2 separate regions of the Homo sapiens genome follow, and region 1 is linked to region 2. The links come from fine-mapping of genetic effects on gene expression. A gene starts in region 2. The other region holds a variant in brackets. All regions are shown on one strand. Distances are between the middles of the regions.

Region 1 (9,789 bases), 170 kb after region 2:
TCACTTTCAACACTCGTCCGCTGCCATTTATGAATCAATCTGTACTCAAGGTTTTGTTGTGTTACTGGTAGGTGGTTCTTGGAGTTAAGTCGTTTACTGGACCAATGAATGTGCCACAAGGAGGCTCAACGGCAGTGAGCAGCAATCTCATTTTTCGAGGGAAAAATTAACACAAATAGGAGTGGGAAGAAAATCCCAACAAAACAGAAGAATAAGAATATCTGAAGCCCATTCAGCAACTCATTTTTCAAACATCCTGCAAAAATGGGGAGGGTTTCCTTAGAGAAAAGAACCATCTTAAGGCTAATCATCAACAGCATTGAAGGAATGGGTAAGACTGTGTGTATCTCGGGCTTGCTTCCGAAAGATGATCTCTCCTCTGGAGGGAAGAATATGGGGTTGTCAATAATACAAAAATCTAGCCTCATCCTTTGTTCTGTCTTGTTTTTGTAACTGGAAACACAAGGCTCATTCCAGTTATACTGTCCTAAGATGAGCAACTTAAAAAAAAATAGTGCCAAAAATTAAATTGAAAATTAAACACTAGGCTGGGTGCGGTGGCTCACACCTATAATCCCAGCACTTTGGGAGGCCAAGGCTGGAGGATCATGAGGTCAGGAGTTCAAGAACAGCCTGGCCTACATAGTGAAACCCCGTCTCTACTAAAAATCCAAAAAATTAGCCAGGCGTGGTGGTGGGCGCTTGTAATCCTAGCTGCTCGGGAGGCTGAGGCAGAAGAATCGCTTGAACCTGGGAGGTGGAGGTTGCAGGGAGCCGAGATCGCGCCACTGCACTCCAGCCCAGGCCACAGTGCGAGACTCTGTCTCAAGAAAAAGAAAAGAAAAGAAAGAAAATTAAACACTAGACCCAGCACTCAATAACAGAGAGGATTTATTTCTTCCCTTGTGTTGCACTGAGGTTACCTTGTAATCTGAATCACTTGTATCATAAGAGAGGCCTAAAACTGATGTGGCGGGAAAAGAGCTAGCGTCTAGGAAGCTGCCCCATTCCTAGTCTTCTAAGAATTCCGAGGTGGTCTCTGATGGGCAGGAGGGCACTGAGAAGTCCTCAGTGGGTTTCCCAAGGAGCAAGTCTGTTAATGACAGCAGCCTACCTGGAGTGTGGCGCCATAGTGCCATGTGTGCAGGTGTGCCCATGATAAAGGGGGCCCAGCCTCTGCCTGGCCCAAGTGCCCCCAAGCTGTCTAACAAGTAGGTGCATATGCCACAAAGGCAATTTGCTGGAATAAGTGGCACTTTCACTTCCACAAAGGCAAGTCCATTTACAATGAACTGTACAGAATGCACAAAATAGAACATGTGCATTCTGTTTGATCAGGAGTCTCTGTGACACATTACGACTATAATGAGTCATTTTTTTCTTTTTACTCAAGAAAAATATTATAGATCTTTGAAAGCCATGTACTCAATTATATAACAATACCAACACCTGTTAACAGTACAGGCTGTTTCTATTCTGTATCTCGAATTGTTTTATGTAATTACGAATTTATAAGGTATTTGGTAAACCGGTAAGAAAGTACCTTTTTAAAGCACTGTATAATTTGGGGTACAATGAAGTGTTCTCTTAAAAATCTATAATTAGGGCAGCATCAGCTTACAGAAAAGTAAAGGAAATGTTATAAAAACACAATTATGTAGATAAGCACCGCGGTGAGGAAGTGTACCATTTCACGACGGTGCCCAACCCTCTTCCTTTTTCTCCTCCTATCTGAAATGCTCTTTGCTCATATCAAGTTGAAGTCATGCTGTCAGAATGAATGACCTTTGGGGAAAAAAGATGGGGAGCTCTGACTTCCCATGTAAGTCCTCAGTCCCCCCCAGGTTGGAGCACCTGGGAAGTGTTCTAATGTGAGGGGCTTCAACAACAATCTTGCCTTTACAGGTTTTCTTAAATATTTTTACTATTATGAATTCACTGAAGAAACTCAAAATTCAAAATGCCTAAATGCTGGCTTTATGGGACAGAAATTCAGAAACTAAAATACAGAAAGGCAGAGTAAACGAAAGTAAAGATGACTGTGATACTGTGAGGTAGACCGTCGGCCAAGAAAACTGAAGCAGAAAGCAACTGAAACCCCCGCCGCCCCCGCCCCCACCCCCGCCCGCGAAGGTTTCTGGTCTGAAGTAGCAGAAATGAGCGCTGGTAGGGGGGTTGCCTAAGAATCTTGGGGTTTACAGTTCTGACACATCCTAGACGCTGAGCCAAGGAGGACTGCTGGCACCCTCATGCTGTGCTGTGTACAGAACACACGATGCTGAAGGTGGCCAAGTCCTGGAGAGCCATGGGAGAAATCGGGAGACAGGGCGATGTGGCCCCCGTCCTGGCAGCAGCAGAGCATGAAAGCCCAAGTCTCTGAAGCCAACAGGCCCGACTGTGACATCCCAACGAGATGGCACCTTCTGACCAAGTTACCTCCTTCTCAGACAGATGTCAACTCTAAAATCAAGCTAATACAGGTCTTGAGTAACTGTTTTGAGGATTAAATTTACGAAGATCTGCAGCGCACCTAGCAAGTGCTCGAGAGTAACTATTCACCAGGTATTATTTCCTGTGTCCTTTCCAAACATCTCTGGTTGTTCAGAATGAAAGAGTGGTGGATTTTTTTGGGGGGGATGGGGGAGGGTGGGCAGAGAAACAGGGTACCACTCTGGCACCCAGGCATGGCTCACTGCAGCCTCGACCTCCTGGGCACAAGTGATCCTCCCACGTCAGACTCCCAAGTACCTGGGACTACAGGCAGACGCCACCATGCCTGCTTAGTGTTTGAGTATGTTTTGTAGAGATGGGGTTTTGCCACATTGCCCAGGCTGGTCTTGAACTCCTGGGCTCAAGGGATCCGCCCGCCCCAGGTTCCCAGAGTGCTGGGATTACAGGCATGAGTCACTGCACCAGACTGACACTGGTGGATTTTATTTTAAAATCATGTATTGTAGGACATCTCAGATTAACTTCTAATTGTTGGAGTTCTAGCTCTATGCTCTCCATGTTTGAGAGCAAATAGATTACATTCTTCAAACATCACATCTGGCTCTAAAATCAAAGAAAGGAAGTTGATTCCGTGTTCAGAGAGGTTCCCAGGCATGCAGCGAGGGACCCCACGGTTGTCTTTTCCTTAGACAGTTAAAAGCATAGTGAATTAGAGAAACAGTTTGGTTAATTCATTCAAAAACCATTTATCGAGCATATCTGGGCAATGTAAGAATACAAAATAAACAAGAAAAAATGGCTCCTGACCTAAATACCATAATCTGGCCAGAGGGAAAAGACATTCATGAATGACACAATATAAACGTATTCAAGGATTACTAAGAATGTGATCAATATGAGGTGGGCTTTTTTATTTTAGCCCCTCTCTTACAGAAAATCTCCAGGCTGCGAGGCAGCAGAGAGTAGTGGTTTACCATTTAGGATCTGGAGTCAGAATACTGTTCCACTTACAAGCTTGGGAAAGGTCGACTTTCCATGTCTCAGATTCCTTCTTTATGAACTGTGGATCATAACAGTGCCTGCTTCTGTGGAAAGTAAGTGAATTCTTTTTTTTTTGAGACAGAGTCTCTCTCTGTGTCACCCAGGCTGGAGTGCAGTGGCATGATCTTGGCTCACTGCAGCCTCCGCCTCCCAGGTTCAAGTGATTCTCCTGCCTCAGCCTCCCGAGTAGTTGGGACTACAGGCACGTTCCACCACACCCAGCTATTTTGTATTTTTAGTAGAGATGGGGTTTCACCATGTTAGCCAGGGTGATCTCAATCTCTTGACCTCTTGATCTGCCCACCTCAGCCTCCCAAAGTGCTGGGATTACAGGTGTGAGCCACGGTGCCCGGCCAGTAAGTGAATTCTTGTATGAAGAAGCCTCAGAACACAGAAATGTCATTAAGTATTTAATAGCCATCATTACCACTAATTGCTGTCATTAAAACATGTCCACAGATGGACAGAAATCTTGGGCACAGTCACTGAGAAGACACTGGAGGCTGTCTGGGTGGGTCTCGAATTCAACACACAGGGATCTAAATCGCTCTCACGCCCGCGTACACGCTCTCAGATGCACAACAGCCATGCACCTCAACTCTTCACGCTGACTCTCTCCACTGGAAGTGTCCTCTGATCATATTCTTAGCCTAAAAATTTGGCCTTCTATTCAATTCTCATATGAACATTCTCCCGACTTGGAACGTTGTCCTATCTATGTGGATCTGACTATAATCTTTCCCCAGACTTTAAGACTATGTTGCTAATTTCTCATGGCAGAAGAATTCATATTTGAGGAACCTGAGATTTTATAAGAAAATGAGAATCAGGGGACTGAGCAAGTGAAATTTGACAGCTCTTATAAAACAATGTATTTTATGGAGTTAAAAATAGTTATAGGCTTATTGTAACAAGTCCAATGGTAAAGAGGTGTGTAAAACAATTTACTAATCCACCCTCTCACATCTAATCCCACTCCCCTTCGGTAATGTCAATTTTTATTGTATATCTTTTACTCACATGAATCTATCAAAATATAAACATATATGTATACTACAAATACATTTAGCCTGGGTAAAATGAAACACTGAAGACTGCTTATTATTGAGGATCTCACTCTGTCACTCAGGCTGGAGTGCAGTAGTGTGATCACAGCTCACTGCAGCCTCAACCTCCTCAGCCCATGTGATCCTCCCACCTCAGTCTCCCAAGTAGCTGAGACCATAGGCACATGCCACCATGCCCGGCTAATTTTTTTTTAAATTTTTTGTAAAGACAGAGTTTTGCCATGTTGCCCAGGCTGGTCTCGAACTACTAGGCTCAAGCGATCCATGCCCCTCAGCCTCCCAAAGTGTTGGGATTACAGGCATAAGCCACTGTGCCCAGCCCACAGCTCATTTAAAGAGGGAGAGATTTATGATCTTTGGCCATTCAACATCCTTGACTCACTGTAGACTTTTAAACACAAGATGTTTAATACAGAAAAAACTTTATTTTATTATAATTTCTTTTTT[G/T]GGGGGGGATGGAGTTTCGCTCTTGTTGCCCAGGCTGGAGTGCAATGGCGCAACCTCGGCTCACCACAACCTCCACCTCCTGGGTTCAAGTGATTCTCCTGCCTCAGCCTCCCGAGTAGCTGGGATTACAGGCACGCGCCACCACACCCAACTAATTTTGTATTTTTAGTAGAGACAGGGTTTCTCCATGTTGGTCAGGCTGGTCTTGAACTCCCGACCTCAGGTGATCCACCCACCTCGGCCTCCCAAAGTGTTGGGATTACAGGCGTGAGCCACTGCGCCCGGCCAGAAAGAACTTCAGGTAAATTATTTTTCCTCGTACCTGCTTAGCTAGCTTATCTTAAGCATGGCTGTGCTGAGCCTCTGTCAACAGGCAGCCTCTGCCCAGGACAACTCCAGACAACTCCCACTGGACAACTCCAGTGGGAGAGTATCCTCCACTGGCCCTGCCAGTCTCTCTTACCCACGATCCAGCCTCCCCTCCTCCCCAGGAATCAGAAGGTCCAGCTGTAAATACAGCTTTAACGCCCTAGGTCTGCGTCAGCCTCAGCTTCCACAACCTTTCCCAACGCTGCACTGAAAATTCCTGTCCTCTGCCGTCTGCTCTGCCTCCCTCTTCTTTTCTCAACTTTGTTTCCTCTTTTTCTAATTAACCCCAACAGCGTGACTTGTTATCTGCATGTAACAGACAACTCTGCCTGGCTGCAGTGACTCCACTAGGATTTTCCCTAAATCCCTGTCCTTTACTCCTAAGAGTCTGTCTCATATCCTACCATTCACACCAATCAACAGAAAGCTCTCTTAACTTTGTAAATTGTAACCACTCAGTCATTTTCAAGTCTAGAGGGCCAGAAATGCCAAAAGTAACTGCCAAAAGCTTTAGTCACAGAAGTTAAGGTCGATTCCCTGTGGTCTAATTTGTAAATGATAGCTGTCTAATCAAAAATGAGAAAGGCCTACCTAACCCTCTTACCACTGCAATTCAATAATGCTACACAGTAACTCATGAAATAAGACTAGGAGACATTTCCCTTGCATCTGTATAATCCAGAAACCAGGAATACTGAGTACCAGCCATTCTGTGCCGCTCTGCTCTCCTCTTGGTTAAAAATATACAGTACACACAGCCAGGGTGAGGTGGGATGAGAGGGTGCCCGTTCAGCAGGGACATCTACCCTGGCCTCTACCTTAGTGAAATCTGCCTGGATCAGGGGGCTGGGCCTCTGTTTCACAGGCTTAGAAGCTAGACTTCCACTATACACTCATAATGCATCACTCTGAACGAGATGGATTCACTTTTATCAAGCTCACAAGATACTGATGTGTAAAACATCTTAGGAATTTACAATCAGAAATAGGTTTGTAAAGGGAACTCACACACCTCCTAACTGTAGTGTGAGCACTAAATTATAGTCAGTGGTTCTTTGATAAATACAGAATCAGCAGAAGAGGCACTGGCTGAAGTGCTCTCCACCAAGACAGCATAAGCAGCAGTTCTCAATCACCAAAGCATCAAAACTTGCCTGGAGGGCTAGTAAAACCACAGACCGCTAGGCCCCCCACCTGAGTTTCCAATTCAGGTTTGGGTGCATTTTATTTATTTATTTATTTATTTATTTATTGAGAAGGAGTGTCCCTCTGTTGCCCAGGCTGGAGTGCAGCGGCACGATCTCAGCTCAGCCCAACCTCCGCCACCCGGGTTCAAGTGATTTTCCTGCCTCAGCCTCCCAAGTAGCTGGGATTACAGGTATGCGCCACCATGCCCGGCTAATTTTTTTGTATTTTTAGTAGAGACGGGGTTTCACTATGTTGGCCAGGCTGGCCTCAAACTCCTGACCTCGTGAGCCACCCGCCTCGGCCTCCCAAAGTGCTGGGATTACAGGCGTGAGCTGCCACACTGGGCCTGGGGTCTGCATTTCTAGTGAGTTCCCAGGAGACGCTGAAGCTGCTGGTCTGAGGACCACACTGTGGGTGAACAGAAGGCCTTCTCCATTATGGAATGGCCTTTCCCAGGGAATTTAGCTCATGTCCATGAGAAGGCTTTCTTCTCCTAGACTCAGCTGACAATGCGCTGCTGGAGAAGGCTTTTCTGATAGTAGACAATGGAGACTCAGAAGGGTGACGGGGTGGGAGGAGGGTGGATGATGAGAAATTACTTAATGGGTACCATGTACATTAGTCAGGTGATGAATATCTAAAAGCCTTGACTTCCTCTCTATTCAATCTATGCATGTCACAAATTTACACTTGTACCTCGTAAGTTTACATAGATAAAATAATTTCAAAAAGTATGTATGACTCTTGTTCTAGGTAGAAAAATCTCTGAGTGACACATTTTTTCTTTTTTTTAAGAGTCTCACTCTGTTGCTCAGGTTGGAATGCAGTGGCATGATCTTGGCGATCTTGGCTCACTGCAACCTCCGCCTCCCAGGTTCAAGCAATTGTCCTGCCTCAGCCTCCCGAGTAGCTGGGACTACAGGCACCCACCACCACACCCGGCTAATTTTTGTATTTTTAGTAGAAACGGGGTTTCACCATATTGGCCAGGCTGGTCTCAAACTCGTGACCTTGTGATCTACCCGCCTCGGCCTCCCAAAGTGCTGGGATTACAGGCGTGAGCCACTGCGCCCAGCTAAAGAAACATCTTTAAAGTATCTTTTGCATAAATTCAGTCTTGCTTATTTGATGTCTCAAGATTTGGGGAGTGTTTTGGTGTCTACAGTTACTACCCCATTAATTTTTCTCTGGCCTCAATGTTGCTGTCCCTAAATTGGATCAAATATATTCTTAGAAGGGTGAGATTAGGAAAGGAACTCGTTAATATAGACTGAAGGCCTCTCTAGTCTGTAAGTAACCTTAATATTCTGAGACTGGAGAATACCACCGTGCTCACTATCTTCTGGGAGAGAGGTTCTCTTTAAATGTTTACAGATTTCAGATGAGCTGAAACCAGCCTTAACTGCTCAATATTTGGGCAACTGGGGACTGTTCGTTTGATCTTTTGGTTTATTAAAAACTATGGGGAAGCTAACAAGTCTTAGAAAATTTAGCAAGGTAACTTTAAATGGAATGCACATGTTATTATTACATGAACTAATTAGTATAAATTCCTTGAAAAGAAACTTTAATATTAAAACATATATAAATATATCCTTAAGGAGAGTTCTGGTCTCAACAAATAATAACAAAATATAAGCGCCAGACCACCACTGCCCTTGGTCTGGTGTCTGCAAGAGGAAATGACACACTGAAGAGCTGGACTTTCATTTGACTTTCAACCGTACTACAATCTTACTAGAATGTGGAGAGCCTGGTGATTCCATCCATTTTAACACTGATCGCCTCAATCTGAAGACAGTCTCAGGGGAAAATGGACTGAGCCACAATTGTTTAGCTTTTTTCCTGGGTGGTAAGTAAGATTCCATTCTTGCCCAATTTCTTACTTCAATTAGATTCAGAGGTAGAATAGTCTAAAGATAGATTCCAAATACTATCTCTCTCATCTTTAAAAAAAGAAAAAATGAATCTGTTATTCCTTTTCCCCAAACGACAGAAGCATGATTTCATTGTATTTTCCTTCAAAACTGTGGCCAATAAAATGCTAGCACCTCCAAAAAAAGTCTCAAGCAACCTGTGAATTAGAAACACAAGAAATATTTTTTCCTTTGCTTCTCCTATGTTATTTTGAAAACTGTGAAAGAAAAAACCTTTTTAAAATGTCAAATATACTTGTCTTGCTTACATTCAGATGTATGCAAAGTTCACTGAGGCGTAGGTCTTATTTTTGTCACTAGACATAATGGGACAGATGTGCTTCTGCAACAGAGGTACGGATGCAGCATGCAGCAGTCTATCCCAGAAGCTCTGTAAACAAACACTCTTTATCCCAAGGAGGCAGGATATGAAAGGCTGGAACCGCCTTAATAAGACACTACTTGTCCCAACATAAAAGTCTGTCTTGAGGCATCCTACTACAGTCTTGCCTATTACTCTGCTGATTAAAGGAGGTTGACTAGAGCCATGTGGGCTAGAAGGAGTGAGGCCTGGACCAGAAGAAAATAATTGCAAAAGTTTCTCTGTCAAACATTAAAAGTCATCAACATCAGAATCACAAATATTTCACTAATCTCTTACATCCTGCAGATGTGCAGATAAGCCATTTCTCTCTGCCCAACACCTGAATGGAACAATGATTATCTTCCGGGATACAAAACTATCTCCTAGTTTCACCAGTTATGTGAGCGCGGATGCTGACAAAGGAGAAGTCTTATTTTTCAAACGTCTTTTGGGAACAGCAAAGGCTATGAATATTTTAGAACTAGTGAGAGAGTGCTATGCTGAGCCACGGAAGCAAACCCCTTGTGTTCCGTGTGTTGACTGCACACGCCCATAGTTTTGTGGCTTGGTGAAAAGCTTTCACTTGTCACAACTCACGGTTTTCCACAATAACGTGAATTGACATCAATGATTTTGCTTGCAATGCGGGTGGAAGTCTTGTCTTCCACTGCCAAGTTCTCAGAACCAGAGAACCAAATCAATGCCTTGTTAAAAGGTTTTGACAAGGTATGGTGGCAGAATACAAAATTTCTCTCTACCATAAACAAGCATGCTAACAAGACAGAGATGAATCATTAAACTACCTCCACCCCAGGAAATATCACTCCAAAACAGTTCAATAGGGAGGAGTTATTTTAAGCATAAAGAACATGGTTGGTAGTGGAATAAACCTACAAAGACCAGACACATGCTCCAGTGTGGATGAACCTCAGAAGTGTTATACTGA
Region 2 (9,789 bases):
TGGCCACACTGTCAGTTAATTACAGTTTTAATAAAAGCTATGAGAGTATATACAGATGGACCTACATGTGTTTGGGGAGATAATTCAGGGAAGGGTTTTCAGAGGAGATGACACTTGAGTAGTGACCTGAAGAATTAATTAGGGCAGCAAAAGGTTGCTCCCCAACCTTTTTGGCACCAGGGACCAGTTTCGTGGAAGACAATTTTTCCATGGATGGAGTTGGGGCAATGGTTTCGGGATGAAACTTCCACCTCAGATCATCAGGCATTAGTTAGATTCTTTCTCATAAGGAGCTTGCAACCTAGATCCCTCGCATGCACAGTTCACAGTAGGGTTCCCACTGCTACGAAAATCTAATGCCGTTGCTGATCTGACAGGAGGTGGAGCTCAGATGGTACTGCTCGCTTGGCAGGCTCACTTCCTGCTGTGCTGCCCGGGTTCCTAACAAGCCATAGACAGGTACCCATCCGCGGCCCTGGAGAGTTGGAGACCTCTAAATTGGAGGTAGCCAGGTGTGATGGAGGAGGATAGGAGGGAGCGCTGCAGGTGCACCTGCACAGCCCAGGATGCAAATGAGCTCAGAACACACCAGAGGATGCAAGAAGGCCAACATGGCTGGGGCCTAGGGAATGCAGGAGAGAGAGGCATGAGATGACTCAGGAGCAGCAGGCAAGCAGCCTGATCATGCTGTGGCATTGCAGATCATGAAAGATTGAGGCCTTCAATCTAAGAGTACTGGGAAGCAGGAGCCCACCAAGAGGGGCCGTGTGGGGGCAAGCCACCCTGAAGGCAGGAAATAAGGTGTGCATTGTCTATAGAGAGTTGACAATAATAAAACTGACTAGGCCAGGCGTGGTGGCTCGCACCTGTAATCCCACCATTTTACGACGTCGAGGCGGGTGGATCACCTGAGGTCAGGAGTTCGAGACCAGCCTGGCCAACCTGGTGAAACCCCGTCTCTACTAAAAATACAAAAATTAGCTGGGCATGGTGGTGGGTGCCTGTAATCCCAGCTACTCGGGAGGCTGAGGCAGGAGAATCACTTGAACCTGGGAGGTGGAGGTTGCAGTGAGCTGAGATTGCACCATTGCACTCCAGCCTGGGCAACACAGCAAGTCTCCATCTCTTTGATAAACCTGACAAAAACAAGCAATGTGGAAAGGATTCCCTATTTAATAAATGGTGCTGGGAAAACTGGCTAGCCATATGTAGAAAGCTGAAACTGGATCCCTTCCTTACACCTTATACAAAAAGTAACTCAAGATGGATTAAAGACTTAAATGTTAGACCTAAAACCATAAAAACCCTGGAAGAAAACCTAGGCAATACCATTCAGGACATAGGCATGGGCAAGGACTTCATGTCTAAAACACCAAAAGCAATGGCAACAAAAGCCAAAATTGACAAATGGGATCTAATTAAACTAAAGAGTTTCTGCACAGCAAAAGAACCTATCATCAGAGTGAACAGGCAACCTACAGAATGGGAGAAAATGTTTGCAATCTACCCATCTGGCAAAGGGCTAATATCCAGAATCTTCGAAGAACTTAATTTACAAGAAAAAAACAACCCCATCCAAAAGTGGGCAAAGGATATGAACAGACACTTCTCAAAAGAAGACATTTATGCAGCCAACAGACACATGAAAAAATGCTCATCATCACTGGCCATCAGAGAAATGCAAATCAAAACCACAATAAGATACCATCTCATGCCAGTTAGAATGGCTATCATTAAAAATTAAGGAAACAACAGATGCTGGAGAGGATGTGGAGAAACAGGAACGCTTTTATACTGTTGGTGGGAGTGTAAACTAGTTCAACCATTGTGGAAGACAGTGTGGCTATTCCTTAAGCATCCAGAACTAGAAATACCATTTGACCCAGCGATCCCATTACTGGGTATATACCCAAAGGATTATAACTCACACTACTATAAAGGCACATGCACACGTATGTTTATTGCAGCACTATTTAAAATAGCAAAGACTTGGAACCAACCCAAATGTCCATCAGCGATAGACTGGATTAATAAACTGTGGCACATATACATCATGGAATACTATGCAGCCATAAAAAAGGATGAGTTCATGTCCTTTGCAGGGACATGGATGAAGCTGCAAACCATCATTCTGAGCAAAGCATCACAAGGACAGAAAACCAAACACCACATGTTCTCACTCATAGGTGGGACTTGAACAATGAGAACACATGGACACAGGGTGGGGAACCTCACGCACCCACACCGGGGCCTGTCAGGGGGTGGGGTGCTGGGGGAGGGATAGCATTAGGAGAAATACCTAATGTAAATGACAACTTGATGGGTGCAGCAAACCAACATGGCACATACATACCTATGTAACAAACCTGCACGTTCTGCACATGTACCCTAGAACTTAAAAGTATAAAAAAAAAAACTGACTAAAATCTCATCTGCTTTTTATTTCCACCTATATATACAACCATATGTGTGTTATAAATGTTTCTGATATAAAGGATGTGTAATAAACAATACACAAGTAAAAGGCAGACACTCTTTATTGTCAGTTCTATCTACTTGACTGATTCTCACAGAAAGCTTTGCTTCTTTTTTGCCAAAGGCTTGTATCTGAATCCATCCAATGCTTGTAACTCAACCATGATGTGACTAGTGAAATTACATACCGATCCACTTTTTGCCAACAAATTTATTGTCCTTAAATCTGATATGTGATCTGTTAAACTACTTCTTACCCTTGTATAAACTCATTAAACTGCAATCTTGTTTCAGCACTAAACACATTTTTAAGTTTAATCTACATTATTAACATCTTCCCCATCACTTTCTGAAGTCTAGAGACAATCAGCAAAACAAATCGATCCCTGATTCATGATTCATAATGTTGGCTAATTTCCATGGTGTAAATACTTCGACCATGGCCCATTACAGTCTACCAACGAGACATCACTGAGTGTGGGCCGGGAAAACGCACGTGCAGTAAGCACATTATGATACGTAATACTGGAAATGGTAGGAAGTGGACAGACTTCAGAGTTATTTAGGAAGTAGAATCTTGGCGATTTGTTAGATGCCGAGGTGAAGGCAGAGTTTGGGAAACACTGGATAGTGGTGTCTTCACTATCACAGGGAGACAGGGAGTTGAAAGCAAGCAGGGAAAGGACGCATTCAGTTTTGGATGGGTTCCATTTGAGGTGCTTGTTACCAGGAGTAGCTGAATAGGAAGCTAGATAAACGGATTTGGAGCTCAGAGGAGCAAAGATTAGAGTTGCAAATTTGGGATATATTGATTTAAATGTTGACAGCAGGTTAAATCATTCAGGGAAAAATTGTGGAGTAAGAGGAAAGGTCTGAGACCTTGAAAACTCTGTTATTTGGTGGTCACCCAGAGTAGACAAGCACGCCAAGACTGGGGACAGACAGGAAAGTGGAGCACCCCCGCCACAGGAAGACGTGTTTTAAGGAGAAAGAAGGAATTTTGCTCAGATCAGTTAACACGAGAAAGGAGAGTGTCCTTTGACTTTAGTGATGTGGATGCTACTTGCGACAATTAAAAAGGCAATTTCACCGAGTGTGAAAACGAACACGTGGAGTTGAGAGACCACAAAACTGGGGGCAGGCGCCTCTTTCACCAACTTCAGCGATGGAAAGTAGAAGAGGGTGGCAGCAAGGGTACGTGGAGTAGAGAATCTTGGAATGATGAAATGCCGAGGATACGGATTCCAGTCCAGAGGGAGCAACGGATCGGATTCTGCGATACTGGAAAAACAGAAGGTGGGGGGGGGGGCTCGGTGATGGAGGGAGCAGGTGTGCAGTTTTGCCGGTGGAAAGTGGAAGTTTCTCTTTTCTCCTGAAGCAGGCGGCAAAGACCTCTGAGAGTGGGAGTGTGGTGGGTGTGCCGGGCCCCTGGATGGGAGTGGAGGTTTGGAACCAAGTGGCCCGAGCCTGCGGTGAGTGGGCCCGCCCTGGGTGGCTCTGGCCGCAGCAGGGTCGATGGGGCGGCATGGTCTCGGCGGGAAGAACACGGCTTCAGTCAGTTCTGTTCTAAGAAGCAGAAGGTGGAGATACGCATGTTTTAAACAACTCCTCCCGGACAGGAAGAAGTGGAGTTCTGGCTGTTCTGCGAGGACGCCGCAGTCCCAGCGTGGAGACCACCGCGCAGGCGAAGCGCGAGACAGGCCAGAAATAGGGTCCCGCGCGCGGACCCCGGAGGAAAAGCGAGGGCTCACTCGGTTTCCCGCAGCCAGCCTCGCCCGACCCAGCTGGGGCCGCCCCTTCCCGCCCCGGCCCCGCCTCCGCCTCAGCTCCGCGCCCACAACCCGGCTTCCTCCTCTCCCGCCGGGTCCGTCTGTCCCTGCGCCTCCTTCGCCGCCGACTAGCGCCCCCTGGCCTGACGTCACCGGCGCGTCCGCCAATGAGCTGAGGAGGGACTTGGCTGTGGCCTGAAAGTGACGGGAGCAGCAGCCAATGGTCGGGCGGAGGGGGCGGGCCGAGACTGGTGCTGGGGGGCGCCCGCGCGCGTGGGGAGCTGCGGGAGGCGCGGCGCGGGGGGGGTCGGGTGCGCGGCGGGCGGCCCCTCCCCCTGCCAGGTCCGGGCGGGTGCCTGGAGCCGCCAGAGTTTCCGCACCCGGGAGGGAGATGCGGCCGGGGCTCAGGCTCCTTGCAGGTAACGCGCGGGGCGGCCCCTGCAGGGCCGAGCGCGCCGCGGGGCGAGCGGAGTTGGACGCGGAGCGGGCGCGGGTTCCCCGCTGCCGCCGTGTCCCGAGCCCCGCACGGCGGCCCGGGCCAGAGCGGCGCTGCTGGAGGAGTTGGTTCCGGGACCTGAGCTGCGGCCCGGGCCGGGGTCACGGGGGACGCGGGCCCCTGTGTGAGCCGCACATGGGACAAAGGGCGCGGCGTGGAGGCTGCGCGCCCCGCCCGCCGCGCTCGGGCCCCTGAGCTTCTCCGCCCGGGCAGAGGTCGCCGCCCCCAGCCCCTGCCTGCACAGCCGCGCCGGCGCTCCCTCGGCCCGGGCGCACCCGGCGCCTGCGGCGCGTCCCCGGAGCGGCCATCTGGCCGCGGGGCCCCGCGCCTGGCCGCCAGCTGGCCGCGGCGCAGGCGATGGCTGGACACAGCCGGGCCGCTTGGCCGCCTGCCCTGGGTTCCGCGGCGGCTCCCCCGCCGCGCCGCGAGCGCCTGCTACTCCACGCTCGGCTGCGGAGCGGAGCGGCGCGAGCGCGGGGCCACCGGCCCGGGCGCCCGGGGCCACCGAGCCGCCGCTTCCCGGCGTGGGCTCGGAGTTTGGGGAAGCCGAGCAGGTGGCGCAGCCACTGCCCACCTCCTGCGAACTCTGCGGGGCTTCTGGTCTTGTTGATGTTGTGGCTATGGGCTGCGTGTGTGTTTTTCTTTTTTTTAAACCACACACAAAAGAAGGGAGGAGTTAGAGGAACGATCTAGCCACTATGAGTCATCCCACACTTCGCTCTTTCCCCGGGAGAGCAAATAAATGCATGGGGAGAATGTCTTGAGAAACAGTTATAGTAGGGACTGACTAGGTCCCCTCCCTGTCCCTTTTCTCTGCAGTCCTGTCTGCGCCGGGCGCGCCCCAGATGGAGTGGGGTAAAATCACGGCCAGTGCACCTAGATAGGGGAAATGGCTACAAGCTAGCAAACTGGAAACTTTCTGGGACAGTGGAACTGTGAATATCAAACCACACACATTCTTGCTATAGGCAGCCATGGCCCTCGTGCGCTACTGAATTATAAAATGGGAAGGCCGTCACAGCAGGACGATACCTTAGCCTTCAGTAGCATGTATTCAGCACTGCACGGAGGAGGGCGGTGGTGGTGGCTCGCGCCCCTGCCTTGAGGGGCCCAGGGTCTGATCAGTCAGGAAACTGCCAGGCCCAGGGATGCAGGGTCACAAACGATTGTGTTCTCTAATCTGATTCCCAGAGGCGCTGTCACCTCTCAGCGTGCATAGGATGGCTGGCTATGTGATTGAATGTTACAGATGAGGTAGAAAGGCTGGGCAGAGGTCAGCAGGCCCCTGGATGCATGGAGGGGAATATTCTTCTGTAGGTGGCTGCTGCTAATTTTTCCAAGGGGAAACATTTAGGTTTGGTCTCGCCATTCTGTTTACCGCAGTCCAGGCTGCCGTGTCAGCTGTCATTGGGCCCTCATGGTTCACAGCTGGATGACATTTGTTTTTCTGGGGTCCCTGTGTGGGGTCTTTTTGGCCTTCTCACTGATGATTAATTTGTTTTAACCTCCTGAAAACAGAGGCTCGATATGAGAAGTTTGAGAAATTGTAGGATAAAGGGACGTCTGCTTTGTTCCAGATTCAGCCCCTGTTGAGGGGCCAGTTGATTCTGTCGCAGGAGTCAGGTAGCGAGCAGAACACTGACTTCATTCCTCCTGGGTTGTGCCCTCTGCTTGGCCTGTAGCAGAGGCCACAGTGGGTCTCTCTTTTTGTTGCTTCATAAGGTGAACTAACGATCCAGCTATGGCAGAGGAGCCAGGGAGCCCAGGCAGGACATCATGTGGAGAAGAGGGACCAGAAAGTTCAACCTAGGGCCCATCTGGAAGAAAACAGAGCATCCTTTCCTATTTCATGTCCTGACTGTAAAAAATGGTGGAGGCCGGGCACGGTGGTTCACACCTGTAATCCCCATGCTTTGGAAGGCTGAGGCAGGAGGATCGCTTGAAGCCAGGAGTTTGATTCCAGCCTGGGCAACATAGTGAGACCCTGTCTCTACAAAAAAATATTTAAAATAGCCAGGCATGGTGGCATATGCCTATAGTCCCAGCTACTTGGGAGGCTGAGGTGGAAGGGTCCCTTGAGCCCAGTAAGGTGAAGCTGTGGTGAGCTATGATCATACCACTATACTCCAGCCTGGGTGGCAGAGTGAAACCCTGTTCAAAAAAAGGGGGGAAGGGATGTAGAGAGGGTGGTCCCCCGTCTCTGCCACCTTGCTCAGACAGGGCTTCTTTTAACTGAGTGCCAGGCCTGGCTCAGGTCATTGAGGAACAGAAGTCGTTTAGTGTTGGAGGAAGGAGAGTTGGGAACAAGGTCACTGTGCATGGTTGTACAGTTTGTGCCAGACACCTGACCAAGGAAGCCATGTGCCCCGGGTCTGCCCAAAAGAAGGGCCCGCCTTTCTCAGTCGCACCAGGTCACCCGATGGGCTACTGCTGGCCCTAGTGCTCAGCCCATCTGCAGGAATAAACACTGGCAACATGGGTGCGCCCGAGACAGGCAGTCAGGGACTGGGAAGCAGCGGCTAATTTCTCCAAAATCTAACAATAATGAGAACTAGTTGTTTGCATACATTTTCTCCTTTAATCCTTACCACCACCTTCTGAAGAAAGTGGTGGTGGTACTGTGTTGTGCCAGTGAGGAAATTGATTCTTAGAAAGACTAAGCAGTTCAAGGTCGTGCAGCCGGCAAGTCCAGGTTTGTCCGTCACCAGAGCCTTTGGTCTCAACCACTGGACTAGACTGATCACTTTGCCTGGCTTTCTAACAAATTGTAGCTTTTTTTTTTTTTTTTTTGCGTTTGCTAGTGAAAGGCATTTTCCAAACTGTTCCACTATGTACGTTAACAGTAAATCCCTTCAAAGAAAAGAGCATTTGTGAGTATTTTCAGTGGCAGCAAAGAAGTGGGAGGCCTTGGAGAAAGGAGAAGGAGCCCCCTGAGATAGAGAAGCAGGGGAGTCACAGCAAGGAGGGGAGAGCCAGCCAGAACTGGGAAATGATGTAGGGGCAGGGGCGTTGGAGGTAGGCCAGGTTTCCTGCTGTCCCTGCAAGAGCAGAGGAGGAGATCATCTGAGATCCACTGAGTCAGCCATCCACTTGACTTCCCAAGAGTCTGGACCTGGCCTCCTACCAGGGCATCTCGTTGATGGTGTGGTCCACAGTCTGCCTTATATATCCTGGGGCTGTGGCTTGGAACATGATTATGCTTAGAACATATTGCTTAGAACACGTTTATGTTCTAAGCAATCTGAGGTACAGTCGCTAATTTAGGAGCACAAAGTATTTCCTGATTTAGTATTCTACTTAGAAGGCCATTTGAACCTTGACAAACGTTTGTGAAATAATTTTCAAATATTTGAGCCTGAAGCAGATAATATCCAGGCTCAGTGGCACACTCCTATAGTCCCAGCTACTTGGGAGACCGAGGCAGGAGGGTTACTTGTGCCCAAAAGTTGAAGCTAGTCTGGGCAACATAGCAAGACGCCATCTCCAAAAATATATTGCATGAGCCAATAAATTCACTATTGAAACAATAAAACAGATAACGTCAAAACCGGTTACATGACCTTTTGTCAGCTCATGACTCTATTGTGCATTTAAAATTGCTATAAATTATTTGTTTTCCTTCACATTTAATTTTCTAAAATTTCTCCCCATGTTAAATCATAGTATCTTCCTAACTATTCAGTATTTGGCTTTGTTGGGCTTTGTTGTTGTTTGAGACAGGGTCTCACTCTGTTGCCCATGCTGTAGAGCCGAGGTGTGATCTCAGCTCACTGCAGCCTGGAACTCCTGGGCTCAAGCAATACTCGCACCTCTCAGTCTCCTGAGTAGCTGGGACTGCAGGCATACGCCTCCACACTCAGCTAATTTTTGTATTTTTTTTTGTAGACACGGGGTTTCACCTTGTTGCCCAGGCTGGTCTCGAACCTCTGGGCTCAAGCCATCCACCGGCCTCGGCCTCCCAAAGTGCTGGGATTACAGGCGTGAGCCATTGCAACCAGCCTTGATTTGTTGTTTTTTAAGTAGCAGGAGTAATTTCTTTAGCTGAAATGTAAGCATAGAGGTTGGGGTCTGTGTGCTAACCTGTGTTGTGTTTGCAGTTGTAATTTAGATTCGAGAAGTGGTTTATCCTTTGACTGGAAAAGAAAAGTAGCTGCAGTATTCCCCCAGCACTTGCTGAGAGCATGCCGTATGCCAGGCTGTGAGGCTCGAGAGACAAGCAGTGGAAGAGTTGCGGCCTGTTTCATCTCTGGATTGTAAATCTGAGCCTCCTTCTGGCCCCTGGAAGGGGACAGCATCACCATGGAATGGTGTGTCCCGTTGCCTGTTGGATCTGTCTCCATCTTCACTCAGACAGAAGGCTATAGAAAGATGCCTGTGACTTCAGGTGGCCTATTTGGCTGGCTTCTTATTGATTCCATAATCTGGGGTATCCACTTAGAGATCCAGAAACAAATACATCCAAACTGCCTTCCCAATCAGGGGGCTGGAATTCTCTTTCATCTCAGCAGGAAAAGAACAGGGTCCAGGTCCCTTAGTAAAGACAGGAGCCTCGGTACCAATCAACCAGCTACTAAAAGGGATTTCCCACAGAAAATCATTCTGTGCCTCTGCTTTCAGCCTTCTGGAAGAAAGTATTAGTAATAGTAGCCGGCCTCCCCTGAGCCTTCATTACAGCCAGGCAGTGCTGGGAATCCTATTTAACCCTCATGACAACTCTAGAAGGTAGGCACTCTTACCATCCCCATTTTAGTGTTGAGGAAACAGGCCCAGAGAGGTCAAGTAAGTTGCCAGAGGTACCCCAGGTCAGAACCGAGCAGTCTTACCCAAACCTGATCCTGGTAAATCCAAAGAAAGCACCTGTCCAGGATGTGGTGGGAATGGGGACAGATAAAAAAGTGCGAGTTTGGGGGTAGGTTGAGATTTGTTTTGGCGAATTCCAAGGCGGGAAGCTGTTAGGCACCGCTGACCACTGGGCGTTAAGATGCTTTGCAGAGGGCCGCAGGGGGTGGGCTCAGAGAGGAAAGGGGTTGTGCACAGGACCGCACAACT

The links. PIP is the estimated chance that this variant, and not a neighbour inherited with it, causes the effect.
Region 1: its variant is the best candidate, but not a certain one, in a credible set for the expression of TMTC4 in whole blood (INTERVAL, PIP 0.71).

What each region holds. Positions count from the first base shown.
Region 1 is chr13:100,498,713-100,508,501 of GRCh38, reverse strand. The region is part of intron 21 of PCCA (propionyl-CoA carboxylase subunit alpha); the gene reads right to left. Among named protein-coding and RNA genes, the nearest start is that of PCCA-AS1, 23 kb to the right of the region's middle. RefSeq lists an enhancer at 5,372-6,009. The variant G/T (reference allele first, on the strand shown) is at 5,007.
Region 2 is chr13:100,669,618-100,679,406 of GRCh38, reverse strand. TMTC4 (transmembrane O-mannosyltransferase targeting cadherins 4) reads left to right here and starts at 4,612. Exons shown (of 19, transcript NM_032813.5): 1 at 4,612-4,663; 2 at 8,838-9,047. The coding sequence starts at 9,045. RefSeq lists enhancers at 3,942-4,021, 5,347-6,236 and silencers at 4,212-4,711, 4,742-5,101, 5,152-5,231.